Linked DNA regions of Homo sapiens: regions 2, 3, 4 and 5 are each reported to be linked to region 1. Evidence: microRNA targets listed by miRTarBase, many of them from high-throughput screens and not tested one by one. Region 1 holds a microRNA gene; each other region holds the end of a gene's coding sequence.

Evidence for each region. The annotated mature microRNA hsa-miR-5580-3p reads CACAUAUGAAGUGAGCCAGCAC and lies in region 1 at 3,839-3,860, opposite strand. An mRNA with a match to its seed (bases 2 to 7 or 8) in the 3' UTR can be bound and repressed. Matches are read on the target gene's strand: a 7mer-m8 pairs with bases 2 to 8, a 7mer-A1 pairs with bases 2 to 7 and ends in A, and an 8mer does both.
Region 2: the mRNA of DCAF4L1 is a reported target of hsa-miR-5580-3p. Seed matches in the 3' UTR shown: 7mer-A1 at 3,701-3,707 and 7mer-A1 at 3,806-3,812.
Region 3: miRTarBase lists SPPL2A as a target of hsa-miR-5580-3p. Seed matches in the 3' UTR shown: 7mer-A1 at 437-443 and 7mer-A1 at 415-421.
Region 4: miRTarBase lists DHX36 as a target of hsa-miR-5580-3p. Seed matches in the 3' UTR shown: 7mer-A1 at 447-453.
Region 5: the mRNA of FMNL2 is a reported target of hsa-miR-5580-3p. Seed matches in the 3' UTR shown: 7mer-A1 at 3,731-3,737.

Annotation. Positions count from the first base shown.
Region 1 is chr14:53,944,589-53,950,941 of GRCh38, forward strand. MIR5580 (microRNA 5580) reads right to left here and starts at 3,896; the gene lies at 3,839-3,896. It overlaps BMP4 (bone morphogenetic protein 4), which reads right to left. Exons shown (of 4, transcript NM_001202.6): 4 at 5,148-6,300. The coding sequence ends at 5,444. RefSeq lists enhancers at 1-887, 1,228-1,760, 1,761-2,291 and a silencer at 2,262-2,311.
Region 2 is chr4:41,981,299-41,987,651 of GRCh38, forward strand. DCAF4L1 (DDB1 and CUL4 associated factor 4 like 1) reads left to right here and starts at 458. Exons shown (of 1, transcript NM_001029955.4): 1 at 458-5,167. The coding sequence starts at 495. The coding sequence ends at 1,685. RefSeq lists enhancers at 189-1,388, 948-1,720.
Region 3 is chr15:50,702,909-50,709,261 of GRCh38, forward strand. It overlaps SPPL2A (signal peptide peptidase like 2A), which reads right to left. Exons shown (of 15, transcript NM_032802.4): 15 at 1-4,966. The coding sequence ends at 4,892. Among named protein-coding and RNA genes, the nearest start is that of TRPM7, 19 kb to the left of the region's middle.
Region 4 is chr3:154,270,105-154,276,457 of GRCh38, reverse strand. It overlaps DHX36 (DEAH-box helicase 36), which reads left to right. Exons shown (of 25, transcript NM_020865.3): 25 at 102-3,912. The coding sequence ends at 287. Among named protein-coding and RNA genes, the nearest start is that of DHX36, 51 kb to the left of the region's middle.
Region 5 is chr2:152,645,911-152,652,263 of GRCh38, forward strand. FMNL2 (formin like 2) reads left to right here. Exons shown (of 26, transcript NM_052905.4): 26 at 1,886-3,916. The coding sequence ends at 1,995. PRPF40A (pre-mRNA processing factor 40A) reads right to left here. Exons shown (of 26, transcript NM_001365597.4): 26 at 5,822-6,353. Among named protein-coding and RNA genes, the nearest start is that of PRPF40A, 68 kb to the right of the region's middle. RefSeq lists enhancers at 1-901, 6,003-6,353.

The DNA of each region.
Region 1 (6,353 bases):
GCTTTCTGGAGCTAAGTTAACACTTTGGGTTATGTAGCTTTTACTGACCAATCAAAGAAGGTGTATAAGTCAGTTCTCAAAAGATAGACATTTTTCTACATTTGAATTATAAATGAATTCAGGGAACATTGGGTGTAGCCTTAACCATACCACCCCTCATCTCTTTCTCTCTTGTAAGGTCCATATCTTTGGCCTCTTTGCCTAGGTCCTACCTCAGAAACAAACTGCTTTGAAAACCAAATGACAAGGATTAAAAGATTAAATCAGCATGAAGCTTGAGTTGAACACAGTTGTACATTTTCTTAACCCAATCATGGACAACTATATGCAGGATGGAATCACTTGCTGGTACCTTAGGGAGAGAGAAATAATTACAGGACTAAACTATTGAGTCTAGCCAATTAAAATCTCAATCAGTGTGCTTTAGACTGTTTAGAGAATTATCTGCTGATGAGGGCTTCAGTTAATAAAACTGGAAAAAACATATTGCTAAAGTAACAGTAATGAAATTTTGCAAAACTAGAATCTACTTGCACCAGGCTACCAGGTTCCAGGATTTGGGGTAGGGAACTTTGTAGTCATTTAAAAATATTTTTGCTAGAAATCAAGCTATAAAAAGTTAAAAGATCAATGAGATCTTTTCTTTAGAAAATGTGGCAAAACTGACTGAAAGCTGGACTTCAGAAATTCTCATTAGTAACACAACGCAGCAAATTATTCTTCCATCTTGTCTTCTTTTCCTCAAATTTCACATTTTTGAGGTAAACATTTTGGAATCCGACAGTATTTTCTGAATTGTTTGTTCTGAACAGCATACTATAACTTTTATATTTTCACTTAGTTTATAAAGAATATTTTGAAGAGCGAGCGAAAGCAGAAACAACTGGAACTTGCTGCAGTTAATGCTTTAAATAAAGTGACTTATGAATGGTAATTTCAAATGGCTTCCAAGCTGAAAAAAAATTTTAGATTTTTTTCTAGAATTGACTCAAAGTTGCACACCTTGAACTTTTGACTCCTTTTTCAAAATAATTTCTGTGTGTTTTTTTTTTAACATTAGAGCAATTTGACATTTTTCCTAAAATCAGCCACTTTTCTCCACTGGTGAGCATTGCAGTTCTGTTTATTTATTCTGCCATTAGGTGCTAAATGCATAGGGAAATGAGATCCTTGCAATCCCACCTAGACCACATTTCTAACCACTCTGAATTTAATTTCCAGTTATAGTTTTCAGAATTGTGCTAGTTTGTATCACAAGGTAAGCCTGAATAACTTTGCATCAATTCTAATTTGGCAGTCCACCAGTTATCCTAAATTCCCCTAGGGAATACTAATAACCTTCTGATTCCCAGGTAATGTAAGGTCACCAACGTTGCATTTGCATTATTCTTTTCCTTTTCAAAAGAGAGTATGTGAATAGTTTGTAAAATTGGTTTTGTGTTGAAGCAAAAGTATCTTTGATGACAAATAGTTCGGAGACCTGGGCCTGGGATAAGCTTTATGCTCCTGGCTCACCTTTGGAGAGGGAGTGGGGGCGGGCACGGTGAGTCCCCGGTCCAGAGGCCCTGCGGAGGTCAGCTGAGGTGCTGTCATTATGTATCATGGCTTGGCATCTCATTTCTGAAAGCAATCGTCCAGCTCCACTCTTGCACACCCGTGGCCTCTCCCGTTCACCTCCGTCCCCCGACTGTTGGGGAGCGGGGCCCTGGCTGCAGTTCAGCTGGGACCCAGGGCTCTCCGTGTCCCCAAGGGGCCCAAGACAGCGGCTCAGCCTTCAGGGCCAGTCTGCAGGTCCGACCCTCACCCAGCGGGCCTGTTTCCCACTCGCCCACGTCCCCGCTCCCATTGAGTCACCCCCATATGCAGGCCCACTGTGAGCTCGGAGGCAGGAGAGCCTCGCTCCCTAATTCCCGCTCTCTGCCCCCTACAGAAAACCCCTAAAGGTCTCGACCCCTCTTAAGCCCCTCCACCCCGGGGAGCCTTCCCCTGCAGACTCCACGCTTCTGCGCGGCCTTTTGACCCCATTTCGCATGAAATCTGCAGAGCGACCGCCCCAAGGACCAGCGAGCGCTAATCAGATCCGTCTGTGTCTGCAGAGCTTCACCTGAGGCCTGGGTCCCCGAGGGCGGATGAGCGGGCCGGCTCTCGGGCCCGGGCTGGGGGACCCGCAGTCCGCGGTCGGCGGGGATGGGGAGGGGTGGCCGCCTGCCGCGCGGCTCCCGCGGGCCGTCGCCAGGTGCACGGTCCCCCTGGTCCCCCGCAGGGAGGACGCCCCCTGGTGCCCCCGCCGCCGCCGGGCCTGGGAGCTCCAGAGCGGGCGGGAGGCGGGGTCGGCGGGGCTGGATCTTGACGCCAGTCCAAGGCCGGGTGACTACTGGGGTCTGCCCGCGCCGCGGACGCGCCGAGCCCTCTCAGTGTGGCGCTGCCCGGCGGCGAGGGGGGTGTGGAACGAAGCACGGTCAAGACAGAAAACAAAGTCAGCAGGTCACCTGGCAGGTTCTGGGCGAATTATGCAACGAAAGCAGGGGAATGTTTGATGCGTCCCACTCCACACCCCCCCAACCTTTTTTTTTTTTTTTTAAGCTCCTAGGAAGCCGGTTCCAGTTTAAGGGTTGGGTAGGGATCGACCAAGCAGCTCCTCTGATGTGGTTACGACTTTGCCGAACTCCTCAAGGGCGAGCTTCCCTCCCCATCTTTCTTTCAGTAATAGGAACATTACTCTGGAGAAAAAAAAAAAAAAAAAACATGAATGGGGTGAAATGGTAGGCTTGATCCAAAAGCAACGCCGAGAATCACCCTACGACTTCCGTCAGGTACTGAACTGAATATTAGGCAAAAATAGTAAATGCCGAAACCTAAATCACACACATCCAATTTTTTTTATTTTTTTTTTAATCTCCCCGGGTCTCAGGACTAAGCTTTCAAACAGAATTTAAAGAGTTAACGCTGGCCATAGCTCTTTGTTTTCCATGCTAACATTTGTGGCATTAGGACTATTTTGTTAACTAGGTATATGCAATTCACAGAATTTCACGGTAAATTCCCCAGACCAAATATTTGGCTGAACAAATAAACAACATTATCCATTCCTGAAAATAAGCCAGTAGGAGCGGGGAGGATGGAGGAAGGGGCTGGTTGCTAGAACTGGACAGCCACAGGGCTCAGTACTGGCCCTAGGATAATTTGTTCAAGTACTGGAGATCTACTGGTTCCTTTTCAATGACATCGACGTTTCAGAAAGTTGCTAGAAATTGGGCAAAACAAAATGAGGCTGCCTGAGGGCAATCTATAAGGGGCTTCCCTAAATGATTTATTTGAGCTCCATACCATTAATCAAAGGGGCAGCGACCTGGGGGGTTGGAGGGGTGGGGGAAGGATCCCTTTTTGCGGGGAGTTTTGGAGGAACTGTGTAGTCTTGCTGCCTTTGCCTGGGGCTCTGATGTCTTCTCTCCACCTGCGCTCTCCGGGGAGCTGGGGTTTTGGCAACCACCCCGCTTCAATTTTTATTGGTTTCCACTAAGCTGCTCCTTTTGGAGGAGTGTAGGACTTCAGTAATTAAAAACAAAAATGAATCCTGCTTCACCCACTCCACTCCCAGGAGCGTATGTAAGAAAGTGTGTACAAGAATGCAAGGGTGCACACCCCACCTAGAAAAATGCAAACGCCAGGAGTGTGCACCACACACATTCTTTGGGTGCACACACCACCAGCAACAGCAATACTACCGCTCATATCTACACCTTCATGATGGAGAAATGCGCTATCAGCCTTCCCCACAGAGAACATACAAAGACACTAAATGTTTCTGCTCCAAAGGGATCCAAAGGGATCTTGGTCTGTGCTGGCTCACTTCATATGTGTGAATTTTCTCAGCACACATATGAAATGAGCCAGCACAGACCAAGATTCAAGGCTTAATTTAGTTGTTGGTGGCAAGTAAGAAAAAGCAAAGGCCTCTCCTCTGCTCCTCTTAATCCCTACACCCGTCATTCCAGAAAGGCATTTATCTGCCTGCTGGGAGCCCTTAACTGAGGGTACATTAGCATCCTCCTTTTTATTAACTTTGTCCAAAAATTGAGCTTTTCCCTTTAAGAAACCCTAGCACAGAACATCAGATCTACCTCTTTCTGCCCAAGTCCAGGGAAGAGGGTGTGAGGGAGGCAGTACAGAGCGAAAAGGAGAGTTGACATTTGACTCGAGATTTCTGTATAATAGTGGGACACCTTCACAGTGCCTGCTTAGAAATTCTGACCCTTTAGTATCTGACCCCATTGTCAACCCCCACCCAGCCCAATCTGTTGGGATCCTAAACTTGATGAAGGCCTTCACATTGGGAAAAGAGGACAAGGGAAAAAGTCAAGAAACAATGGGAAATTCTATCAAGTGGCATATTAAAACAGTAGTCATCAAACTTTTTGAAGGTAGGGTACATTATTTGTTACAAAAAAAAAAAAAAAAGACAAAATAGCAGTGCATGCCTGTAATCCCAAAGAGGCCGAAATGAGAAGATTGCTTGAGCCCAGGAGTTCAAGACCAGCCTGGGGCAACAAAGAGAGAACTTGTTTCAAAAAAAAAAAAAGACAAAAGAAAAAACAAAAGAGTCCTACCTGGAGAAAAAAAAAATAAGTTTAAAAACATGCCTTCACACACACATTATGATGTTAGTGTACAAATTAGTTTTGATTTGGAAATATCACATTGGTACCTGTAATAACTGGAGATACCCTGAGGTATCATGAAAGCAGAGGTGGGTATCATTTTTCTAGGGTTGAGACCTCATCACGCTCAGCTGTGATACACCTCAACAGGTGAGTGAAACAGAAGATGTACAAGGGGCCTGAAATGAAGTCTTTAATCTGACCTACACTCCTTTCATCCCAGTGTTTCTCCAAGGCATGTGTCATCCAGATGGGAGAGGATACTGCATCCTTGTTAACATTAAATAGAAATAGAAAACAATTCATGCTGGCAATTACCATCTCTCTCTGCCAACAGTTTACTTCCTGTCCCTACAACTTAACCACCTCCAGGTACCACCTTTTGACTTCCATCCAGCCTCCAACTCACCTGAACAGAAAAAAGCCTCATTCAAAAGAGATGAGCCCGAAGGAAAAGAGAAAGGATTAAGGAGAAAAAAAAAATCATGATTTACCTTTAAAATAATGACTCATTTTATTTTTTTCTTTTAATACGTAGTTATAAATATATTTTGTCAAAATATATGATCAATATGGTCAAAACATTTGCACGTAAAGTCATAAATAAGGTCAAGGTGAATGTTTAGGGATTTTTTCCTTTTTTTTTTTTTTTTTTAAATAAAAGTCCAGCTATAAGGAAGCAGTCTGTGTAGTGTGTGGGTGAGTGGATGGGAACGTGTGTGTGTGGTGTATGTGGTGTGTGTGTGTGGTGTGTATATCTGTCTATCCTCAAGGACTGCCTGATCTCAGCGGCACCCACATCCCTCTACTACCATCTCCTGATAATTTTTCAGTACCACCTTATCATACTCATCCAGGTACAGCATGGAGATGGCACTCAGTTCAGTGGGCACACAACAGGCTTTGGGGATACTGGAATTGACAGAATTGACCAGGGTCTGCACAATGGCATGGTTGGTTGAGTTGAGGTGGTCAGCCAGTGGAAAGGGGCAGTCCCCATGGCAGTAGAAGGCCTGGTAGCCTGGTGGGGCCACAATCCAGTCATTCCAGCCCACATCGCTGAAGTCCACATAGAGCGAGTGGCGCCGGCAGTTCTTATTCTTCTTCCTGGCCCGCTGTGAGTGATGCTTAGGGCTACGCTTGGCCCTCCGGCGTCGGGTCAAGGCATGGCCCCGGCCATCATGGCCAAAGGTGACCAGGAGGGGCCGGAGCTGGGCCCAATTCCCACTCCCTTGAGGTAACGATCGGCTAATCCTGACATGCTGGCCCTGGTGGGTCCGAGTCTGATGGAGGTGAGTCACCTCAATGGCTAGCCCATAGTTTGGCTGCTTCTCCCGGGTCCAGCGAAGGACCGCAGGGCTCACATCAAAAGTTTCCCACCGTGTCACATTGTGGTGGACCAGTCTCGTGTCCAGTAGTCGTGTGATGAGGTGCCCAGGCACCACTTCTGCTGGGGGCTTCATAACCTCATAAATGTTTATACGGTGGAAGCCCCTTTCCCAATCAGGGCCCTGGTCCACCTGCTCCCGGAAGAGCCGAAGCTCTGCAGAGGAGATCACCTCGTTCTCAGGGATGCTGCTGAGGTTAAAGAGGAAACGAAAAGCAGAGTTTTCACTGGTCCCTGGGATGTTCTCCAGATGTTCTAGGCACAGTTAGGAAGGAAGGGGAAAAGAAAAAGCATATGAACTTTTTTCA
Region 2 (6,353 bases), not on the chromosome of region 1:
AGGCTGAGGCGGACAGGCTGCTTGAGCTCAAGAGTTCCAGACTAGCATCGGCAAAGCAGGGAGACCCCATCTTTACAAAAAAAGTAGCCTGGCATGGTGTTGTGAGCCCATAGTCCCAGCTAAGTAGGGCAGAGGTAGGAGAATCACTTGAGCCCAGGAGTTCCAGGCTGCAGTGAGCCGTGGTCGTGCCACTGGACTCCAGCCTGGGTGAAAGAGCAAGACCCTGTCTCAAAAAGAGAAAGGAAAAAATTTAACATCAAGAACTTCCTTTCATCAAGACACCACTGAGAGAATACGACAACCCACAGAGTAGGAAAAGAGATTTGTAATACACATCTGTAACAATGGACTTCCTCCTAGAATAGAGAGGATAAAAAGTAGCAACACTTCCGCTTGCACCCGGACGGAACTTCCTGTCACGGAAAAGAACATCCTGTCACGGAGAAGAACATCCTGCAGAATTTCCTGTCACGAGGAACATTCCGCAGGAGGAAATGGAGGCTGAAAGGCTGCGACTCCTCGAGGAAGAGGCCAAGCTGAAAAAGGTAGCCAGAATGGGATTTAATGCATCTTCCATGCTCCGAAAAAGCCAGCTAGGTTTCCTCAACGTCACCAGTTACTCCCGTTTAGCCAACGAGCTGCGTGTGAGCTGCATGGAGCGGAAAAAGGTCCAAATTCGGAGCTTGGATCCCTCCTCTTTGGCGAGCGACCGATTTAACTTCATTCTGGCGAGTACCAACAGCGACCAGCTCTTCGTAGTGAACCAGGTCGAAGTCGAAGGCTCCAAGTACGGCATCATCAGCCTGCGAACTCTGAAGATCCCTTCGTTCCACGTGTACGTGCTCAGAAACCTCTACGTCCCCAACCGGAAGGTGAAGTCCCTGTGCTGGGCCTCGCTGAACCAGTTGGACTCTCACGTTCTGCTGTGCTTCGAGGGAATCACAGATGCTCCAAGCTGTGCAGTGCTGCTCCCAGCGTCGCGGTTCTTAAGTGTTCACACAAGAGTTAACCAGCCTGGCATGCTCTGCAGTTTCCAGATCCCAGAGGCCTGGTCCTGTGCGTGGTCCCTCAACACCCGGGCATATCACTGCTTTAGTGCAGGCTTGTCTCAGCAGGTCCTGTTGACCAGCGTGGCGACGGGACACCAGCAGTCATTTGATACCAGCAGTGATGTCTTGGCCCAGCAGTTTGCTAGTACGGCTCCTTTGCTGTTTAATGGCTGTCGCTCCGGGGAGATCTTTGCCATTGATCTGCGTTGTAGAAATCGAGGCAAGGGGTGGAGGGCCACTCGCCTGTTCCATGACTCAGCAGTGACCTCTGTGCAAATCCTCCAAGAAGAGCAATGCCTGATGGCATCAGACATGACTGGAAAGATCAAGCTGTGGGATCTGAGGGCCACTAAATGTGTAAGGCAGTACGAAGGTCACGTGAATGAGTCCGCCTATCTGCCCCTGCATGTGCACGAGGAAGAGGGAATCGTGGTGGCAGTGGGCCAGGACTGCTACACGAGAATCTGGAGCCTCCATGATGCCCACCTGCTCAGAACCATCCCTTCCCCGTACTCTGCCTCCGAGGACGACATTCCCAGCGTGGCCTTCGCTTCTCGGCTCGGGGGCATCCGGGGAGCAGCACCAGGGCTGCTCATGGCTGTCCGGCAGGACCTTTATTGTTTCCCCTTCAGCTAATTCTGCAGGTGGCAGCGCGGCCGAATGTGGATTTGACTTAAGGAAGTTAAGAGTATCTTATTACCGTTTCTGTGAGAGCATTTTAAGAGACGTGTTGTATATAGATCGCATCCATCCGGCTGCCAGGGGTAAGGTGTTAAGAGTTTTATGTGGAGACGTTCTTGTAAAGTTATTTCAGTTAAACTGTGGACTTAACTTGAAAGTCCTTTTCATAAAAGGTACCTGTTTCCTCTTGTTGAATGCCTTAGAACAGTTAACCACCTCCCCAACCCTTTTTTTTTTTAAATAATTAAGACTTTTCTAAGGACTGAAGATTGGCAAAAACTAAAATAAATTAAAGCAGCTTCTTTCACTAGTAGCCCTTTAGAGAAGCATAATGATGGTACTGGTAAGACTGTTTGACTAATCATACAGGGTCCCAGGCATCTGCGCTTGAGGAAGCCAGTGGGAGTGGAGACAAGGGAGAGGTAATTTCTCAGAGTCTCTACAGAAATATTTAAGGCTGGAGTTTGGAATCATTAAATTTGGCCTTCTCAAACTCAATAGCAGATCTCTTAAGGTTCTCCTTTTATTGTTATCATCCATAGGCATTGGAAGGAAAGATGGATCTTTTTAAATACTAGAAGTTTTAAACAGTCCTTGATGTGCTTTTGTTGAGGTACCTTTCAGAATGTAAGGTACAGCAGCTCCGGTTTCTATTATGGTGACTTGAAGTTCAGATTCAAGGAATTGGCTTTGACTTTTTGTAATCTAGGAGCAGCAGTTTGTGAGAGATTTATTAAAAATGTTAAAGAGCCTGTTTTTCTACTAAGCAAGGAAGAAAAAAAACGTGTAATAAGGTTAGTTGCTACTTCTTAATAGCCAAAGCCTGGAAATGATCTGAATTTCGAAAATGCTAAAATTCGTGATATAATCATACAATCGGATACTGCATAATAATAGAAAATAAGGCACACTTGCTATGTGAAACAGTATGGACCAATCTCAACATGTTGACTGAAATTAGGTAGAAATGAGTACAAACTGTATGATTCAATTCTAAAGTTCAAAAGCAGTAAAAACTTGTCTATGGTGATTAAAGGTAGAGTAGTACGTACCTCTGTAGAAAGAAAGGATTTTTTTTTCTTTTTCTTTTTAGGATGTTTGAGAAGTGACATGGGGAAGCTTTAGGAATGCTGAGTTTTCTTTATCTTGACACTTGATACATACGTAATTCATATATCTATATGCTTCACGTTTTTATAGTTTACTGTATATATGTTATTCCTCAAAAAATAAAAATAAGCAATTAGGACACTATTGTAGTTAGGCAAGGGACAATGATGCCTTGGACCTGCATGTGTGAGAAGTAGAAATGATCAGAAATGATTGCATTGGAAGATCATTCGAAGGTAGTATTATTGATAAGGCTTGCTGATGAGAGTAAACTAGAAAGTGAAAGAAAAAAGGATGGCAGCTTTTTTTTTTTTTTTTTTGAGACGGAGTCTCCTTCTGTCGCCCAGGCTGGAGTGCAGTGGCGCGATCTCGGCTCACTGCAAGCTCTGAGGATGGCAGCTTTTTTGTTAACTTTAGAACTGGTAGATGATGGTGTCGTTTACTAACCTGGGGAGGATGAGGAGAAAAAACTTTAGGTGAAGGGAATGATGCTGAGTTTTAGACATCTACTAAACCTCCAATTGGAGATACAAAGTATTCTGCAGATCAGGGGTCATGTCATGGCTGGTAATACAAATTTGGTGACTTCAATACATAGAATTAAAATAGATGGGATAGATGTGCTTTATATGACATAGATGAGGTTAATGTAATTACATATTGATAGAAGATGAGTAGATCAATAGAGAAGATATGGGAGTATGGTTAGGCACAGATTTTTGGAATCCTTTCAGTCAGTTTTTTATACTAACTTGATATGTGACATGAGAAATTGTGTAAGCTTTACTTGCTGTTGTTTCTTCAGTGTAAAATGTCTTAGATAATAAAACTAAATGATAAAGTAGATACAGGGTTAAAGGATATGTATCTTGTCCCTTTTACATTGTAAGCATTCAAAATAAAACAAAACAATTAATGAAGAAAAGACATTGCAATCATTCAGTAAGAACTAGCTGCAGACATATATATGTATATATATATATGTCTGATACTGATATGTCATTTATTTGGCAATTGACAAAAAATGACTACATAACTTGATAAACTGTTTATCCTCATTTGCAAAGAAAACAAATGCAAAAAAAAAATCAGTAAGAAAAACACACCTAAAAGAAAGGGAGGCAATAGTCTTGAATAGGAGAAAAAGAGGAGATCCAAATGGCTAATATACATTTGAAAAGGCATCCAACTTCTTTTATTGTCAAGGAAATGCAAATTAAAACCACAATGCCACACCACTTTCACTATAATGGTTAAAATAAAATAGATCAGGTGGAGTGACGTTGGGAATTAAAAGAGAAGCAAATGTTGGTGCAGTTGTGAGCAAATAGAACTTTCATATACTGTTGAGTGTATACTGGTACAAGCACTTGGAAAAGTTAGTAATTGCTAAAGCTAGAAGTTTGCATACTCTATGACCCAGTCATTTCAGTCCTAGGAATATATTAATCAGAAATGCATACCTGTGTCCACCATAATTTGTTAATAGCTCCAACTGGAAACTACCCAAATGTTCATTAATAGTAGAGTGGATAAATTGTGGGATATTAACACAATGGAATCCTTTTTGCAGTGAGAATGAGCATAGCACTATGGACAAATCCTGCAAACATAATGTTGAAATAAAGATGCCAAACACAAAAGAGCACATATTGTACAACTAATGCACATAAAGTCCCTAAACAGGCAAAATGAATCTATGTTCTTAGAAGCAGGATTAATGGTATACTTGTAGGGCAGAAGAGTAGTGACCAGAAGAAGATTCTAGGAAGCTAGCAATGCTGGTGTCATGCCAGACCCCTAGTGACTCCAATAGTAATGGCACTGTGTCCGAGAGTCCAAAGAAGATGCGTAGACAGCGAACAAGACTTGGGTTTATTGGGGGAACTTATATATAGGGATGGTCCAGTGGTAGTAGGCTGGACAGAAGAACCACTACTGTTTGTAAAAAGCATGCAGTTTATATAGCATTTTCATTTAGCACACTCCACCTAGCAACCTCCATTTAACCCAAAGCAAAGGACCTTGATCCCCTATATTGCCTGTGTTGTAAGGGATGGGCTGGGGGTTCAGACGTCCTTCATAGATAAGGAGTGAAACTCAGGGTTAGTCGCTCCTGTTTCCTTAGTTTGGGATTCTGAGCACACATTCGTTTTAGATCACAGGGTCGTTCTCAGGATATGGTTGTTACTGCTGTCAGGTGCATCCTCTCTATAGCGGGGTACTGGCTACACAGTTTTTGTTCACTAGTGATAATTGTTAGAGCTATGCCCTTAATATATGTCTTGTGTGTATTATACTTCAATAAAAAGTTAAATTTTAAAAAACCTAGTAAGACTTTCTCTTGCTGCCCCCACCTGTGGCTTTGGGGAAGGAATTGACTCTTCACAAATGCTGCCCTCTCTAAAAATATTACACCTCCATGCTCTGTCTCAGCTTAATTCTTCTCAAGGATAAAGGTTATCAAACAGTCAGTCTCTTGCCTCCAGGAGTATTTAATAACTCAATTATTCCAGCTGTAATATGAATCTTGTTCACTACCCTCTAAGGAAAAGTGTGTGTATGTGTAATTTTTTCTCCACCATACCAGGTAAATTGCAGAGAAGGAGCTTTTATTGGAGAAGCTAAGAAGTGTTGAATAAGAGAGCTATGATCCAGGAATACAGTTATCATTGGAGAAATCATTCTCCTTTTCTTGGATGGAAGTGGCAAAGAGTGAACGTAAGTTTAATGGTAGTGGACTACTAAATGGCTATTTGACAAGATAATTGTGACAAAAAAAATCCCACAAGTAATTTCATAGGATAATGTCAGAGGGAAAACCTGTAAGAACAAGCCACTCCTTCCTTCTCTCCTCCTCTGCAATGCTCACTCAACCATGTAAACTGATTTGGAGTTAGAGGACCTGAGTCTGATTCCATCTTCTGTGACATTCTTGCTAAGTGAACTGTAGAAAAAACCTTTCACCTCTCTGAAAAATGGAGACGAGGATTAGCAACCTGGTCAGACCTGGTCAGAAACCACATCAAGTGCATGTTTCATTTCTTTTGCATGTTTGCCTTTACAGGCCAAATGTGTCTGTGCAGACCCTTATTGCTTCTGACCATTGTTGTACAGGAGAGGGGGTGTGACCAGGTAATTCTTTTTACCCATGTATAAGCCAGTTTTGTTTTCTGTTTGTTTTTTTTTGGTACAGATGGGATCTTATCGTGTTGCCCAGGCTGGTCTTGAACTTCTGGCCTCTTGCCTTAACCTCCCAAAGTGCTGGCATTACAGGCATGAGCCACTAGCACCTGGCTATAAGCCATTTTCTTTCTTGCTTCTTTTTTTTTCAAGACAGAGTCTCACTTTGTTGCCCAGGTTGTAGTGCAGTGGTATAATCTCGTTTCGCTGCAACCCCCACTTTCTGGGTTCAAGTGATTCTTATTCCTCAGCCTCCCGAGTAGCTGGGATTACAGGTGTGCACCACCACTCTCAGTTAATTTTTGTATTTTTAGTAGAGAAAAAGTTTTG
Region 3 (6,353 bases), not on the chromosome of region 1:
TTTTCACTCTGAAAATTCAGTAATCTAGCATATGAGTATTACAGTAGAGGATCAAATTCCAAAAGGTTGAGTAATTTGATTCAGATCTCTTGAATTTACAGAGTACTTTTCCTCCAGGAAATGTATAAAGTTATTTATTTTATGTTATATATCTATATTTCTTTGAGATGGCATCTTGCTATGTCACCTAGGCTGGAGTGCAGTCACTATTCACAGACACAATCACAGCTCACTACAGCCTCAAACTCCTGGGCTCAAGGGACCCTCCCATCTCAGCCAGTACATTCCATTGTACTGGTCTACACTGAATTCCATTCAATTGTAGACTGAAGTACAGTTTTTGTTTTTGAAATTTCATTGGTTAAGATCAGGCTGAAATTTTAGAGATTAAGCCTAAATAAATTAGTTCATATATACATATATATATATATATATATACATATATATATTTTTTTTTTTTTTTTTTTTTTTTGAGATGGAGTCTCGCTCTGTCGCCCAGGCTGGAGTGCAGTGGTGTGATCTCGACTCACTGCAACCTCCACCTCCCAGGTTCAAGCGATTCTCCTGCCTCAGTCTCCTGAGTAGCTGGGGTTACAGGCGAGCCCCACCACACCCAGCTAATTTTTGTATTTTTAGTAGAGACGGGGTTTCACCATGTTGGTCAGGCTGGTCTCAAACTCCTGACCTCATGATCCACCCGCCTTGGCCTCCCAAAGTGCTGGGATTACAGGTGTGAGCCACCGCACCCGGCCTTAGTTCAAATATTTTTTATTCAAATGTAAAATATGTCTATAACTCAAAGGATAAATGCTTGAGGGAATGGATACCCCATTCTCCATGATCCGCTTATTTCACATTGCATACCTGTATCAAAACATCTCATGCACTCCATAAATATATACACCTACATGTACCCACAATTTTTAAAAATGTAAAAATAGTAATTTTTGCTTATACTAAAGCATAAATTGAAAGAGCAAAGAAAACTGGAAAGCTCATTTGTATTTATTATAAATGTATCAATTCACTAAAATCTCTATGGACAAGTAAAATATAAGAATGCCAATAGCAGATGGGTTAAAATTCTCTTTAAAAGAGAAATAAATTGCAGATTCTACTAAGGAATTGCTAATCTAAAAAAAAATCTACAAGTGCCAGGCACGGTGGCTCATGCCTGTAATCCCAGCACTTTAGGAGGCTGAGGCGGGCGGATCACCTCAGGTTGGGAGTTCGAGACCAGCCTGATCAACATGGAGAAACCCCGTCTCTACTAAAAATACTATATTAGCCGGGTGTGGTGGCACATGCCTATAATCCCAGCTACTCAGGAGGCTGAGTCAGGAGAATTGCTTGAACCCGGGAGTCGGAGATTGCAGTGAGCTGATATCATGCCATTGCACTCCAGCCTGGGCAAAAAGAGCGAAACTCTGTCTCAAAAAAAAAAAAAAAAAAAAATCTACAAGCTAGAAGAAAATATAATGTATTAGAATATCAAGGTCTTTCCCCACAAGCCTCACATTTATTTTTGCTAAACTAAACTGAGACAAAAGTAATCTACATTACAATTTGAGATAGTGATTTCTGTTGATAAGCCACAAAAATGTTCAAAGGGATTTTCTAACTTTTTTTTTTTTGCATCAAGAATTAATAAATACAGTGTATCATTATTTTAAAGACATGTTTAGGGAAAAAACCAGCTTCTCTTCCCCTTAAAGTTATTGGTGGTGGGAGGGCAAGAGAGGAAGAGATGGCAGCTTTTTAAGTGAAATTTTAATCTTATCTATCTTTTGTTCATTTTGAGTCCCCAAATAAAATATTTCTGTACTTTAATTTCTTAATCACTATTGTCAGCTTGGTTGCTACACATTTAATTACAATATAAAGTTGACATTGAGGATGAAGAAACTTAATTATACTTTTTCTTATTTCTATTTAACCAATAAGATTTTAATAGCAAATTAGAACAAGATTTTACCTCCTTAATAACTAATGGTTAGATAAAGTAGAATTTGTATCAAGTAACTCGGATTTCAGATTTCTGGATGTACCAGTTACTATGCTACTGAGGAGATACATCTAGTTGATGAAGTTAAAATATTAATTACTACTCCAGTTATATGAAACCAAATTATTTTGAGAAATTATCTTATTTTGCCAGGCGCGGTGGCTCATGCCTGCAATCCCAGCACTTGGGGAGTCTGAGGCGGGCAGATCATGAGGTCAGGAGCTCAAGACCAGCCTGACCAACAAGGTGAAACCCCGTCTCTACTAAAAATACAAAAATTAGCCAGGTGTGGTGGCACGCACCTGTAATCCCGTCTACTTGGGAGGCTGAGGCAGGAAAATTGCTTGAACCAGGAGGCAGAGGTTGTAGTGAGCCAAGATCTTGCTACTGCACTCCAGCCTGGGTGACAGAGGGAGACTCCATTTCCAAAAAAAAAAAAAAGAAATTAATTATCTCATTTCGATGTAGTAAAAAAAAAATTTTCTTTAACATTCTTCATAAAATGTGATTAAGGCTATTAAATATAAAGCTTGGATGAGGGTGCAGATAATTTTACAAAACAGCTGTATTTTGGCAAATATTTTATTATTATAAATGAAAATACAGAGTTTTAAAACGGCACTTAATCTGTTCTCTCTCTCAGAGTCTGCCAAATAAATCAGATTTCTTGGAAAATATTCAAACTTGATACAATGGAGGCAAAATTAACTCTTGTCAGGTAAGTCATTTGCCATAAACGAAAGGACCCATAACTGCATTAAGCAGAGAGGGACTGACTGTCAATGAAGCTTCTCTATTTGCAATTTATTCAGCAAAAGCGAACAATTTTTAAAAAGTCTCTAATGCAAAATTTAGTTCAAGTATCAAAGGTCTGATCAATTTTAAAAGGCATTAGTTTTATTTTTAATAAATTGAACTGGCCTTAGATGAAAGATATAGTTCTGTTCACATATTTTATACATTATTTACAGAGAAATGAAAAATCCTGCTGCCTTTGTTATCACTTGTCATTTGCGAAATTCTTACTAAAATAAAAGAAAATGGAAAGATAATTTGACCTCTGACTTCCAGGAGAATGTTCAGGCCACATCTAAAATTTACCAAAGAATGGGGAAAAAACTTTTTTCAAGTTGGAAGGTACCAGAGTGATTAGCTGGTCTAACCTACTCATTTTACAGATTAGAAAACTGAGATATGGCCGGGCGCGGTGGCTCACGCCTGTAATCCCAGCACTTTGGGAGGCCGAGGCGGGCGGATCACGAGGTCAGGAGATCGAGACCATCCCGGCTAAAACGGTGAAACCCCGTCTCTACTAAAACTACAAAAAATAGCCGGGCGTAGTGGCGGGCGCCTGTAGTCCTAGCTACTTGGGAGGCTGAGGCAGGAGAATGGCGTGAACCCGGGAGGCGGAGCTTGCAGTGAGCCGAGATCCCGCCACTGCACTCCAGCCTGGGCGACAGAGCGAGACTCCGTCTCAAAAAAAAAAAAAAAAAAAAAAAGAAAACTGAGATACAAGGTCTTGAGATGCGGCAAATTACTCAACTCTTCCTTGTATTGTAATTAAACTGAGACTAACACCAAGTCTCTTGCTGTTGTTGCCAATTCTTTTCTCTGAACCGCACTTTGTACATCCTCCACCAAGATTAAGAATCATTACCTATGGGAAAAGGGGTGGGCATCAGGAAGAAAAAAAGATAACGGGTGGGAGTGGGGGAATGTGGGATAATGTTAGGAATGCTGTATTCAACGATGAGCCATATGTATTAATACATAATTTCTTAAGAAAAATAATTTTTTTAAAAAATCAAACCTTAACATTAACAGAACCAAATTGCAAAGATCAGAAATACCAAAGTGAAACTGAATGTTAGTACTGAAATTTAAGCTACATTTAAAAAAAAAAGGCTGTCAAACCAATGAAAACTAGATTTCAGTGTCTGTCTCCTTTTAGTGACTAGTTCTATATATTATGTTTCTCTATATCTGGAAAAATGTTCTTAATATAATACACGTGCAGTCTGAAGTAATTTCAGTTCTCAAGTTTATGAAAGGATTGGGTTTAAAAAAATACTACAAAAATATGCACTTATATTTCCAAAATTATGTATTTCTAACCTCTGCAGTGATATAAGGTCCAAATTTTCACCGTTGAACCGCCTTCTTGCATGGTGTTAAACAGTTATTTCTACAGAGCAGATATAATTTGCATAAATCTTTTTTTTTGGGATGGAGTCTCACTCTGTCGCCCAGGCTGGAGTGCAGTGGCGTGATCTTGGCTCACTGCAAGCTCCACTTCCCGGGTTCACGCCATTCTCCTGTCTCAGCCTTCCCAGTAGCTGGGACTACAGGCACCCTCCACCACGCCCAGCTAATTTTTGGTATTTTTAGTAGAGAGGGGTTTCACCGTGTTAGCCAGGATGGTCTCGATCTCCTGACCTCGTGATCCGCCCGCCTTGGCCTCCCAAAGTGTTGGGATTACAGGCGTGAGCCACCGCGCCTGGCCAATTTGCATAATTCTTTACAGTAAAACCCATTCAGAAATAGTAACTACTTGTATCTACCATCAGAGCTGAAAGAAACAGATTTCGTTAAAAAAAAGTATAGGGGTGGGTCAAGGCATTTTTTTTTAGAAAAATATACTGTATATAGTACATCTCGGAAACTACACAGACCATATGTTTTATTTAATGTGAAGGCACAACTTTAACATTAAAAGCAAAGCGTTTTAGTTATTTATGATGTAACTGTCAGTACCAGCTCATAAAAATATATTTTTGCAAGCATATCATTGAAGACTCTTTCAGATTGTCAATTCAAAAGTCAATTTAAAAAGTCGAAGTCTATTTGTAGAAAATCAATGACACATTATAGCAGTTCCACATAATATTATTGCTGGACAATCTGTTCACCAGATATCACAGGGTTTTCTTCATTTGTTGCACAATCCAAATGGTCCATCATCTAGGCATAAATAAAAGACGTTAGGAAATGCAAAATTTCAACTTGCCCCCAATATTCACTACATTAGCAAAAGGATTCTTTTTCTAAAAAACACAGATTGCTCTATGAAACTGAGCACTCCTTCTGGAGCACTGTTCTGGTTCAACATCCACACTTCTAAGGAGATAGTCAGGGTGACACTGAACCTCTCAGGAAGCCTAATCACATGACTCAAAGCCAATTTGTGTTCTCTGGATCTTCCGTTATCTCCATTTCCCAATATGAATACTGCCCTTCATGGCAGTGAGAACTCCAGAACAAAAGGAAGATATTCCTGACACTTATTCCAGGACACTATTCCAGGCAGTGTCCAATCATACAAATGGGAAAACTAAAAATGGCCTCATGAGTCACTGTGAGAATACCTGCTGACTCTGGGACAGTGTGATATTATTGACACCTTGAAATAACCGTAAGATAATTTAAACTTTGGAAACATTATAATAATTTCTACAAAAAATGAACTTGAGGTCATATGATATCTGAAAACAAAACCAAGAATACATTTGCTAGGCCGGGCGCAGTGGCTCACACCTGTAATCCCAGCACCTTGGGAGGCTGAGATGGGCAGATCATGAGGTCAGGAGTTCGAGACCAGCCTGGCCAAGATGGTGAAACCCCGTCTCTAATAAAAATACAAAAATTAGCTGGGCGTAGTGGCGGGCGCCTGTAGTTCCAGCTACTCGGGAGGCTGAGGCAGGAGAATTGCTTGAACCCAGGAGGCGGAGGTTGCAGTGAGCCGAGATCACGCCACTGCACTCTAGCCTGGCAACAGAGTGAGACTCTGTCAAAAAAAAAAAAAAATACATTTGCTATAGACTATTTTAAAGAAATTATCAGCTGGGCACGGTGGCTCATGCCTGTAATCCCAGCACTTTGGGAGGCCGAAGTGGGTGGATCACGAGATCAGGAGATCCAGATGGTCCTGGCTAACACAGTGAAACCCCGTTTCTACAAAAAAATACAAAAAAAAATTAGCCAGGCGTGGTGGCAAGCGCCTGTAGTCCCAGCTAATTGGGAGGTTGAGGCAGGAGAATGGTATGAACCCAGAAGGCAGAGCTTGCAGTGAGCCGAGATCGTGCTACTGCGCTCCAGCCTGGGTGACAGAGCGAGACTCCGACCAAAAAAAAAAAAAGAAATTACCAGTTAAACTTTTCTCAAATGGTCACTTCAGCTCTGCCTATATTCTCATAAAAAATTGTCTTATATTTGGAAATGAAGGATGAAGAAACTGTTTAAATGCTTTCAGTGTTTCAGCAACTCAAATACAATTACTAAAAATAGAAAAAAGTATTTAATGCCTTTGTGAAGACTGTTAAAGACTTTTAGACTAGTGATTAAATTTCAG
Region 4 (6,353 bases), not on the chromosome of region 1:
CGCTTGTGAAACTCCTTGTATCAGGTAAATTAGTTTCATTTATTATGTTATTTGGTAATATATCTGCCTTTGTTGAACATGTATAATTTTTCCAACCTTAGGAATTAAGAAAGGAACTAGATATTCTTCTGCAAGAGAAGATTGAAAGTCCTCATCCTGTAGACTGGAATGACACTAAATCCAGAGACTGTGCAGTACTGTCAGCTATTATAGACTTGATCAAAACACAGGAAAAGGCAACTCCCAGGAACTTTCCGCCACGATTCCAGGATGGATATTACAGCTGACAGCTTTTCAGGGGTGGTCTGAAAAGCCAGTTTGACAGCCATTCTTCATCATTGTTTAAATTTTGGCTGGATGCCAAACCCTGGGACATGAACAATTTTCATGTGTAAGGTAGAAGCCTTCAGTAGGTAGTAAAGACTTAATGTGCATGACTTGATGTTATATGTAGAGATATATATATATATATATATATACCATAAAAGCAATATGTTCTCTGATCATATACTCTGCTGTGGTCATGCCCACTCTTTGGGAGTATATTCCCTTTATATATATTGAGTATTGTACCACTTGAGAAATTCCTTTGTTCTGTTATACAAAATTAATCTTTCTGCTCATAATGATTGATGATACCACCAGTAAAAATAGGATGTTTACCCCAAAACAAGTGTCAATTAAGAATTTGAACACAACCACATTTTTTAAAATGAAACTTCTATCGGAAGTAAATTAATTTGTTGTAATAAAGTCCAGTATTTAATAAAATGTACAATGTTAAATCTCAGCCAACCTCTTGGATTGGTTTCTACATTTTCACCTATGGCTTGGTTCATTTGATATTTTTACTATTTTTAAAACACGTGCCCTTTTTATATCACCCTGTGCCTCATAATACAGCAATTGAGAGCACGGTCTGGAGCCTGATTACCTCAGTTCCAGTCTCAGCTCTGTCAGTTAGTCAGTGTCTTGGCTTCTCTCCTTTTTCCTTATCTTGTAAGATACAGTTGGCCCTTCATATCCATGCATTCCACATCTGTGGATTCAAACAACTGTGGATAGAAGATATTTGGGGAAAAAAAGGATGGTTGTGTCTATACTGAACATGTGCAGACTTTTTTCCTTGTCATTCCCTAAACAATACAGTTTAACAGCTATTTATATAGTATTTACATTGTATTAGGTATTATAAATAATCTAGAGATGACTTAAAGAATATGGGAGGTTGTGCCTAGGTAACATGCAAATACTACGCCATTTTATTATAAAAGACTTGAGCATCCATGGATTTAGGTATTTGAGGGGTTGGGGTTGGAAACCAGTCCCCCACAGATACTGAGGGACAACTGTACATGTAACAGTTGTGAGGATGAAGTACATTAATACATGTAAAGCACATAGGCTAGTGCCTGTACTCTCTGAATCTTAGTTGTTATTTGTCCCTGAAATATTTTCGTAAATGTCTAACAATCTATTATATTACACTTTTTATTTTATTGCTACTTATCTTCTTCGCCAAGGAATAGTGTAACAACACATGCTGTACATTTTCAGCCCTATCAGATTGTGATAAATACTGTTGGTTGCCGGCCAGCAACTATTTTGTCCCTCCCTTCTTGCTTGCTTATTCTGGTGTTCCCTTCTGTGCAGCTCTGTGTCCAGGTATGTTGGACCCTTTCCCTAAGGGTGAATCCTGCTGTTCTAAATGAATCACATGTGGTCTTATCCCCCTTATAAGTAATTGATAAGGCATGAGTACATAAACATGTCCTAGTGAATGGCAGCTGAGAAGTGATCTTCAAGGGGGTGTCTGAAAAATGTTTTACTCACTAATAGGCTTAGAGGAGGAAATCCTGCTCTCTCTGGACATTGTCTTTTCTGACTCTGATAGTTGGAACTGCTGCAGCCAACTAATGATCACAAGGAGACACGGACTCAGACTGAGGTTAGCTCAGTGGAAAGATAGAACTCACCAGAGCCTTTGATAATGCCGGTAAGCTTCAGAATTAACCCATTCTAGAGCTGCTTTACATGTGGACTTATGTTGATATAATAAAAACCCTTCAATTGTTTAAGCCACTTTTAATAGGATATTGTTAGTTTTTTGTTGGTTTTTTGTTTTGTTTTGTTTTGTTTTTTGTTTTTTGGAGACAGTGTCTTGCCCTGTCACCCAGGCTGGAGTGCAGTGGTGTGATCTTGGTTCACTGCAGCCTCGACTTCCTGGGTTCAAGTGATCCTTCTGCCTCAGCCTCCCAAATAGCTGGGACTATAGGCATGCATCACCACACCCAGCTAATTTCTGTATTTTTTGTAGAGACACCGTTTCACCATGTTGCCCAGGCTGGTCTCAAAACTCCTGTGCTCAAGCAGTCTGCCCGCCTTGGCTTCCCAAAGTGCTGACATTACAGGTATGAGCCACTGCACCCGGTCCCTAGTAGGGTATTTTTAACTTGGCAAAAAGGGTATTAATCAGAAACATACACTATCCATCACTGAGTATTATACTCTTGATTTTGCAATGTAAGAGTTTTAACCTATTTGTCTGACAGAAGGTGTAAAAGTGCTGGACATGCTGCAGAAAGAAACAGGAAAAGCATCTTGCTGCACTCCAAAGAATGCAAATTTTAATGTGCCTTCCAATAAATGCAAGGAAACCGAAAGAGTTAATAGTATCATACAATGACTGGGATGTATTGATAATGCTACAGTGATCCATTAACAGCACTTGTTCAGGTACTGCTCCCAATCCTGGGAATGTGTGTTACCTGTTATGTCTCAAATCCTTTATCTTGGCTGTTCTTCTAAAAGTGATCTGTCTGTCATTGAATGCTGGCATTAGAGTCATGTCACAATATTAGAGCATACTGGTTTTGCCTCTAACGTCGAGGTGACCATCTGGTCTTTCTTGCTCTGTAAGAGTTTCTGTTTGTGCTTTTTTTTCCCTTACTTTTATTATCCAGTTTAAATCCAGTCAGTTGGCCAAAATGGTCTTGGAAGAAAGGATTTAGAGATTCTGTAAAAAAGATTATTAGTTGGTTCTGTGTTTGCAAACCAGTATGTAATTCCCATATGAATGGGGAAAATGTTCCTGAGGAATTATTTAATTGATGAGGCATTCACAGAGATTAAAGCAGTTATTGTTACCTCCAATTTATGTCTTCTGCACAGCTGATTAGGTTGGACATTTTAATCCAAGGTGCTACTTACATTCTGTTTCTTTTGTTTACAAAATAGGGCATTACTGAGTAGAAAATACATTCCAGGTCTAAGAACTGTTTGTTCTTTAGTGGATTTTAAAGAATAAGACATTAAATTAAGAAGGAAAATCTGTTTGATTCATCATTTTGAGTAATGCAGAGAATAACTCTTAAAAAAAAAACCTGAAACAGAAACTTTCAGGAAAAAAACAAAAGAAATTAAACTACTGAATAATCTTTCAAAAGCATCGTTGAACAGTGAGCACATGTGATGCCTTCCCAATTAATTAATTTGGGCAAAAGCTCTAGATAAACTTACACCAATTGTTGCAAGGCATTCTCTATTACTGCATTTTTAAAACAAAGTCCTCCCCTAAAAGTTATGAATTATACAAAAGCTTTAGGAGGAATTTTAGTACTCCTTTACCCAAAATAAATAGTGGTAAATTTCCTTCTGTTCTTAGCTCTGAGTTTGTATTTATTTATAAGTCATTGTGATCATGTATACTTATATATTTTTAATATGCTAATTGCTTTTAAATGGGATTTTTGTTCTGATTTTAAAATAATACATCCTCCCTGGACAATATTTGGAAATGTAGCAAAGTAAATCATGTTACCATTGTTCCATTTTGATATATATAAACTTTAGGTATTATTTTATATATAATAAATTTTAAGATATTATATACAATAAAATTAACCAATTTAAGTATATGATTCAGTGAATTTTGTCAAACATATAGTAGTGTAATTACCACCACCACAATCTTGATACAGAACTTTTTTTTCCCCAGAGATGGAGTTTCGCACTGTCACCCAGGCTGGAATGCAATGGCGCAATCTCGGCTCACTGCAACCTTCGTCTGCCCGGGTTCAAGCAATTCTCTGGCCTCAGCCTCCTGAGTAGCTGGGATTACAGGCACGCGCCGCCATGCCCGGCTAACTTTTGTATTTTTAGTAGAGATGGGGTTTCACCATGTTGGCCAGGCTGGTCTCGAACTCCTGACCTCATGATCCACCTGCCTCGGCCTCCCAAAGTGCTGGGATTACAGGCGTGAACCACCACACCCAGCTGATATAGAACATTTGTATCACCTAAAAATTTCCCTTTTACCCCTTTGTAGTCAATCCCTCACCCCCACTTCTATCCCCTCGAAACCCATTGATCTGCGTTTTGTCACTTTTCGTTTTGCCTTTTCTAGAATTTCAAATAACCAGTCTTTTGTGTCCAGCTTCTTTCACTTAATGTAATACTTTTGAGATACTGATATTGTTACATGTATTAGTAGGTAGTTCCTGTTTTATCTTCTATTCAGTAGTATTTGCATTGTATAGTTATACCACAGTTTGTTAATTCATTTACCAGTTGATGGACATTTGAGTTGTTTTCAGTTTTTTTGCTGTTATGAATAAAGCTGCTATGAACATATGTATATAAGTCTTTGTGTGGTTATATGTTTTCATTTGTCTTGGGTAAATACCTAAGATTAAGGTTGTTGTATTATAGTAAGTGTGTTTGTATAAGAAACTGCTAAACTGTTTTCAGAATTTGCTGAAATTTTACATTCCCAACAGCAATGTGTGTTGGGGGGGTCAGAGTATTCCACATCCTTGCCAGTACTTGGTATTTTTAGCTGTCGTTTTAATTTTAGCCTTTAGTGGATGAGGAGTCCTGTCCCATTATGGTTTAATTTTTGTTTCTAAAATGATTAATGATGAGCATCTTTTCATGTTGTTTGCTTTTTCCTTAGTTATCTTATGTATTTCTGTTTGGGTTTTGATTTTTCATCTCATGTCAAATGATTGGAGTTTTAAGGATATATCTGACTACGGAGAAGGAAGATTACTAATTAATTTTAGAGATACAAAAAGTTGTTATTTACATTCCTTGAGATTTATAATGGCCAGATGTGTTACTCTTGACTTGGTTGGTAAAGTGTAAAGAGTTAAGCCAGTGTTATTAAGTGCCAGGAGAGACTAGCACCAGTTTTATATAGTTATGAAGGCAAGAGGTGTATTCATCATGAGGTGAAGAATGGGACATAAGAAAAAATATTTATTAGTATTGGGAAAGTCATTGGAGATAAGGAAAACAGCTGATATGGAAGCACTGTAGAGGCGATCTACTGTGGATGATAGAGAACTTTTAAATTGTGACTACCTTTTTTTTTCTGGTTCTTAAATTTGATTCATATCTTAATGGTCTGGTATAAATTTTTGAGTTGTATTTTTCTATTTCTGAGTCCTTATGTAGTATATTATGTTACCTTTACACAGTGAACATCATGGTTGGGAATAAAATTAACTTTAGCAAAGCTTTAATTTAATGAAAAAGTGATTCCTTGGTGACTTTTATCTTTTAGGCCCTTTTAAATATTTCAATACTTAATCTTTCCCATAGCTTCCATTCACCTCACTTTTCTCTTAATGGCTGTTTCTCCTGTTAAATGAGAGAGTTTGATTATTTTTACTTGTTCTGGAAGCCAATTTTTTTCTTGTTTATTCAAGCAAAGGCAAAACAGACCTATCTCTAACGTTTTTGTGGTGTCTGAAGTAAGAATATAAATGGAAGCCAACATACTAGATCTCTAAATATTTTAAAATTTTAAATTAGTTTAACAAACTTAAATAAAACGTCCTTTTAGCCAGGTGTGGTGGCTCATTCCTGTAATCCCAGCCGTTTGGAAGGCCAAGGTGGGTGGATCATTTGAGCCCATGAATTCAAGACCAGCCTGGGCAACATGGTGAAACCCTGTCTTTACAAAAATTACAAAAATGAGCCAGGCATGGTGGCATGTGCCTGTAGTCTCAGCTACTCAGGAGGCTGAGATGGAAGGATTGCTTAAGCCTGGGAGGTCAGGGCTGCAGTGAGCCACTGCACTCCAGTCTGGGCAGCAGAGCAAGACCCTGTCTCAAAAAACTCCTTTTGACAGATACACATTAATAATGACAAAATAAAAAATGGCATAAAACAATATTGAAGATGACTTTTAGCCATAGTTTCTTATTTTTTCGAAATATTCTTTTTTGCATCAATTGGCACAGTAACCATATGTTTTTTTCTTTAGCTTGTTAATATTGTAGATTGCTGTCTTAGTCATTTTCTGTTGCTGTAACAGAATATCAAAGACTGGGTAATTTATAAAGAAA
Region 5 (6,353 bases), not on the chromosome of region 1:
AGAACCACAAAGCTGCATATGAGGCAAAAGTGTAATTCTGGCCTTTCATTACCAGTGTGGGCTAGGAAGCAGAGGCTTGAGAGGATTGGGGTATGCAAAACTATTTTTTCCTTAAATTTAAGAGTAGAGGCTGGGCATAGTGGCTCACACCTGTAATCTGTAATCCCAGCACTCTGGGAGGCCGAGGTGGGCAAATCTGTTGAGTTCAAGATCACCCTGGGCAATGAAGCAAAATCCCCATCTCTACAAAAAAAAAAAAACAAACAAACAAAGTTAGCCAGGCATGGTGGCAAATGCCTGTAGCCCAGCTACCTGGGACGCTGAGATGTGTGGATCCCTTGAGCCCAGGAGGTGGATGCTGCAGTGAGCAGAGATCACCACTACACTCGAGCCTCAGTGACAGAGACTGTCCTCCCCTCACAACCCCCGCCCACCCCCCCAGAAAAGAGTAGGGCAGGGTCACACAAATTCCAATGAGTCAAGGAGCCAGGAAGGTAACAGGCCTGGTAGGAACTGTGCTGAACCTAGAGCACAGATCTTAGCTCCAACTTCTTTTTGCTGTGTAGGAACTGGGGCCCGGTTTTGCCAGATCTTCCAGTTTTTCAAAAGAAGCCAGAAACCCTGGTCTTTATGTTAATTACCAATTTAAACACCAGGAAACTGTACATGTGCGGGGGGTGGGGGGGCACAGTGGAGCAAACATTCTGTGGGTCAAATGTGGTCCATCAGCTGCATTTTCAACTTGTTGAGTAGATAAAGGGATACAAAAGATTCAATTTGGTTTAATTCTGTTATTTGTTTGTATTTCCCTTTCTAAAGATAGCATGTATTCTAGCAGAAGTCAACAATACTAAGTTAATGAAAGGGAAGTAAATACTAATTAAACAGGAAAAGTATAAAGCCTGCTTTACTTTTTTCACTATGCCCTGACTTCATCAAAGGGAGGCTGCATAGCCTAGCCTGCTGGCTAGCTACCTGACTTACTCAAGAAAGCATGCCTTCATACTGAGTTCTTGTATAAAATTCCTCTGCTCCTCCCACTTCATCCTGACAGAGCAATGCCTATTTGGACTGGTATGCAGTGATTGACTCATTCATTTAACAAGGATTTTCTTATGCAGGAGGGCCCACACAACTACTTCTTGCTGACGTAACATAAAAAATATTGGGTGGTAGAGCTCGGTAGTCCCCACTTCTCAGGAGGCTGAGGTGGGAGAATCGCTTGAGACTGGTTCAAGTCTGGCCTGGACAACATAACAAGACCCCATTTCTTAAAAAAAATAGGTGGCAGAAAAGGATGCCAGGGAATAGATTATTATTTTGGTTTAGATTTAATGGTTAATTGAACATCATTTTGTTTAAAATTTACAAAATAATAAACTCAGCTAGCTTAATGGAATGAAAATAATAGAGCCCTTATCTGCAAACTGAAGGTCTTTAGGTTCTTGTTAAAACTGCGAGGAAAAGATGGGACAGGACAGTCTGCTTTATTAATTTTGCAGTTTAAAATTTATTGCAGTTACTATTTATTCATTCAGGCTTCCAGAATAAAAACAAAACAAAAAAATTAAGCTACAGCTGCTTCTAATTTAAGAAACATTTCAAAATAAGACTTCAGCTAGACTCTGGCCAGTGACAGAAATAATCTATGTATTTTTCTCTCAAAGTCCTAGAATCCTACCAGTATTACATCCTGTTTTGTTTGATTGTAAATATTGAAGGCAAATGTTTTATGTCTTTGATTCAATGCTCAGTGAGTTTGAAGGGCCCATTAGCTGACTTTTCTACACAAGCTGCTTTGATTGGCTGCCAGCTGGCCTTTGTCCTGCTTAGACACATGCTATTAAAGGTTGCTATTCTCTCACTGGCACTCTCCCCTTTACAGATCTTAGAAACCAACCATACAGACGAGCCGATGCGGTGAGGAGAAGCGTCAGGCGGCGCTTTGATGATCAGAACTTGCGTTCTGTTAATGGTGCCGAAATAACAATGTGAACCTGAGACTGGCCTGCATGAATACAGGGTGTGCGTGAATGAAACTGCCCACATGAACTTTATGTGCTACGATTTAACTGCAGCCTTGAACACACACAAAAATATTCTTAAGGGCTCAGATTTAGCAAACACGGAAGAATTTTAAAATGAGCTCTCCTTTCAACCCTTGTTAACAAGTGCCTAAAAATGGAAGTACCTGTTCAGATTAATCAAAGCAATAGGATTTGATTTGATTAGGTATCTTTTTACACCAGTATGTTATTTTTAACCAAAATGTAAAGTTCTTATTAAACTCATTACCTGCCATTGTGATTGTCCCATCATGGCCCACCTGGTTTCCTGATGTTGTAAATAACATCAATGCATCTGCTGTGGGTCCTTTGCTGAGATGTCTTCGAAGGAATTTTGTTTTAGCCATATCCATCAACTTTGTATTTTACTTGCAATTTGGAAGAAGGAAAGTCACATGATGAAACTCCTTTTGTCTATAACCAGGCCCTGGCAAAGTGCAAACAGGATGCAACTGCAGTGGCACAAAGGTCACTCAATCCTTTGTTTCCAGTTTCACATTCTACTACTTCTGCGCTAGAGAACGATGCTCTGTGAGAGGCATTCACTAGTATGAATGTGGGGATATAGTGTATAAGACTTATTTGCAGTACTGTGTTCTTCAGCTAGAGGCAGCTTTTTAAATAATGCAAGTGTATTTATTAGCATTAAAATTAACATCTCAGTAATCAGCATTAGCATTTCTGAGGACCATTATTAATTCTGAGAACAGAAATTGGTGCCTTGCAAGGAAGTTTACTAGCTCTATCAACAAGCATTCAAGGTTACATCTGCTAGCAGAGTAGTGTTAGGAACCTGGCCTTACTCTCCTCTGACAATCGCAATTTTTTCTTATTTTTTATAAATTCAAGAAGATACACTTGGCATCGTGTATCGAGGCTAAGTTTTTCATGCATTTCCCAGACTACTTATGGAGAATTGCAGTTTAAGTTGCTGAAAAGTATTAACATGGTATTAAGCTTAAATAATACGTAATGGGACTAGATGGCCCACTAAGCCACTGTTATTTTCCTTCCTCTCTGGCAGGGCACTTGATCCATTCCAAAGTCAAAAACTGGACTGAAGCTAAATTTGTACTTTTCATAATATACATTCTGCTTCTGGCTTATCTTCTTGGTACATCAATATATTAATTGTAAAGTTTATTGTATAGTATTTAACCGCTGAAGTTCCTATTTTATGTTGTGCTTATGTGAACCCCTTGGTGAAGGTCCCTTTTCCTTGGATGTGTAGTTATATGATCTTTTTAAATGTACAGATATTTTGCTATAAAATCGGTGCAGTTTTTTATGGTTTTTACACTTCTCTTTAATTCCCACCTAAGCCTCTGGGTAATATTGTAAATATTGTTTTAAAATGCATCAGCCTATGCTATACAATCTGAATGTTATTTTAACTTATAGTTTTTTTTAATATATATATTTAACTATAAGGACAGTTTAGGGAACAAGTTACCTACCACATTTCACTTTAGTGTACCTATTTACAGAAAGATTAAACTGCCACCTGCGGGCACATTCCCATAAATGTGTACTTTACTTTAAAAAGAACATGCCACGATTTTGTCTTTCTGTGGACTCAACATTCACTTCGATTAAAAATAGCAATTTGACCAAGTTGGACTTCCACTACAAAGCAGCTGTTTTCCAAAGTTCAATGCTGACATATATGTATATTAAAATAATTGCCTATTTATTAATCTACAAATAGACAACGTTGGCATGTTCTTTTCTGTTTGTCTATTAATGGGCCTGCTTCTTAGCAATATTAGAATGTTTTATAAAAGCAATTCATGTTACTTTTCTGGTCTTTTCATGGCATATGAGCAAATAATAAACTATTTACACTACTATTCTGTAATATGTTGTAATCTTTCAATGGTACAATTTAGGGGGTTTTAGCAATATTATGTAGACTTACCTTCTAGAAACAAATATATCTTGCTATTTGAACTCAGAATCCAAATATACTTGGTAAACGTCAGGAAGGATTCCTCCCTATGTGAACTCTTGACCGCTTGCTATATAAAACATAGACAATGGATCTTGGAAGTGAGACTACATCTCCAAAATTGCATTTATAAACATACACCTTCTAGGTAAACAGCACCTTTGTTTGGTGAAATGCCACAACGCCCCCAGCAGCCCCACCAAATGTTACAATTAGGATGTTGTACAAATAAAGATAATAGGCTATATATTAACTGCATAGTTAACCCTGCACCCAATAACCATACCAGTTGGCAAGGCAAACAAGCAGTTTGGCCCCCATTGCACAAACAGTTGTAATAAAACTCCCAGTCATCAAAAGTTTATGTGTAACATTTCATATGTTCTTTTTATGGAAACAAGAAAAATTTTAAATTTTAGAATACCTTTCAAGTGGCTTAAATTTAGAGGCATATATATTATAGTCATTTAAGGAATTATAATTTATATAATTATTGTCACAACTACCACAGCGTACTTTGCATTTGTCACACACAACTGCTTACAGATTAAAGGCAATAATCTTTATTCCTCACAAGAAGCCTGTGAGGTATTTAACACTGTTGTGCACATTGGGAAACTGACTCAGCAAACTGACTTGCCCAGGGTGCAATCTAATAAATGCCTATAATAAAGCCTTAGGTCTTTTGTTCGCAATTCAGTGCACTTTCCACTAAACCAGTTATACAATGTGTTAGAAGCTTTATTTTATGAGAGAAAAAGTCTTGCGATCAGTAAGGATCTCTACTTTTGTTTTACCATCAGACTGGTGCCTAATGGTAAAAGAAAAATCTTTTAATATTCCACAAATTCAGAATGTTTTCAAACTCAACTACAGCAGTTAAGTTCAAATGAGGCAGATAGAGTAACATTCATCTTTCTTTTAAAAGGTATTTACCAATGACTTTGAATTAAATACTCACGTTCCCCACTCCCCATCATCTAACACTGAAATTCACTGCAGTGCCCAGTGGCCATCCTGACTCAACTCTGCTCTCAATAGAATAGGGCTTGATACCCATCACTGACTCTGCTTTGGTTCAACATACTGGAATCTTCTCTGTAGAATAAGGTGATTTTACACTGGAAAATAAATAGATGATACATTTCTTATACTCGCTCCATAATCCACATTTTGTTTGTTAGACAAGGTCTGGCTCTATCACCTAGGATGGAATGCAGTGGTACAATCTCGGCTCAGGGCAACCTCTGCCTCTTGGGCTCAAGCCATCCTCCCACTTCAGCCTCCCGAGTAGCTGGGACTGTAGATACGCACAACCACACCTGGCTAATTTTTCTAGAAATAGGGTTTTGCCGTGTTGCCCAGGCTGGTCTCAAACTCCTGAGCTCAAGTGATCTGCCTGCCTCATCCTCCCCAAGTGTTGGGATTACAGGCACAAACCATTGTGCCCAGCCACACATACCTATTTAATGTTTGATAACTCTTCTTAACCCTAATATATTTCCTAATTTTTATCAGAAATGTCTCCAAAGATGAATTTATCAGATTTCATCAAAAGGATTTGTTTTCCATTTCTTTTTAAACTAACAGCCCATCTATGCCCAAGAAAAATCTGAAGAAACAAACATGTACGTGAAATCAGTGATGGGTTTTTTTTTTTTTTTTAAGTCTTTTTATCAAGAAAAAGAGGAATTACACTGAGAAAACATAACGTGGGCCTCCAGCAACTCTCACAGCATAGAGCTTGCTGCCTGAGTGGTGCTTAAAGGAAAAAACTGACACAAATCCAATTTAGTAAAAGATACCATTTTTTCTAATAAATTATATTTATTTACAAAAGGTCTAATTTTATATAACTATGAGGTTCTTTTACATCAGAATAATATATAAACAGAGGTGAAAATCTGGTAATTACAAACACAGAAAATAGAAACCTTGTTCCCTTATTTATTACTCACCTTTCAGAACAAGTCCTTGGCTCAGTTGTAGAGGTGGGGAAGACCAACACCTACCGAAGTTTGCAGGCAGGAGCCCCCAAAAATGTTTATAAATAACACATTTAGATACCCTAAGGAACAGCAGTGAAGAATAGCATCAAGGAATGGCTTAGTTTGAATCTGATCTAATTCACCAGCCACTCACTGTTTCATTGTCCACGACTAGGGGCAGGGAGGATTAGCCAGTATGAATGTCAACTTTACAAGTAGGGTAATTACCATCAAATTAACAATTACCAATCACTAGCACTGAGATGGCTTTGAACTAGATCCTACTGAGAATCACAAAAGCAGTTTTGATAGTCTTAAGCTATTATAGCTAAGTGTCTTAAAATGGAGGGT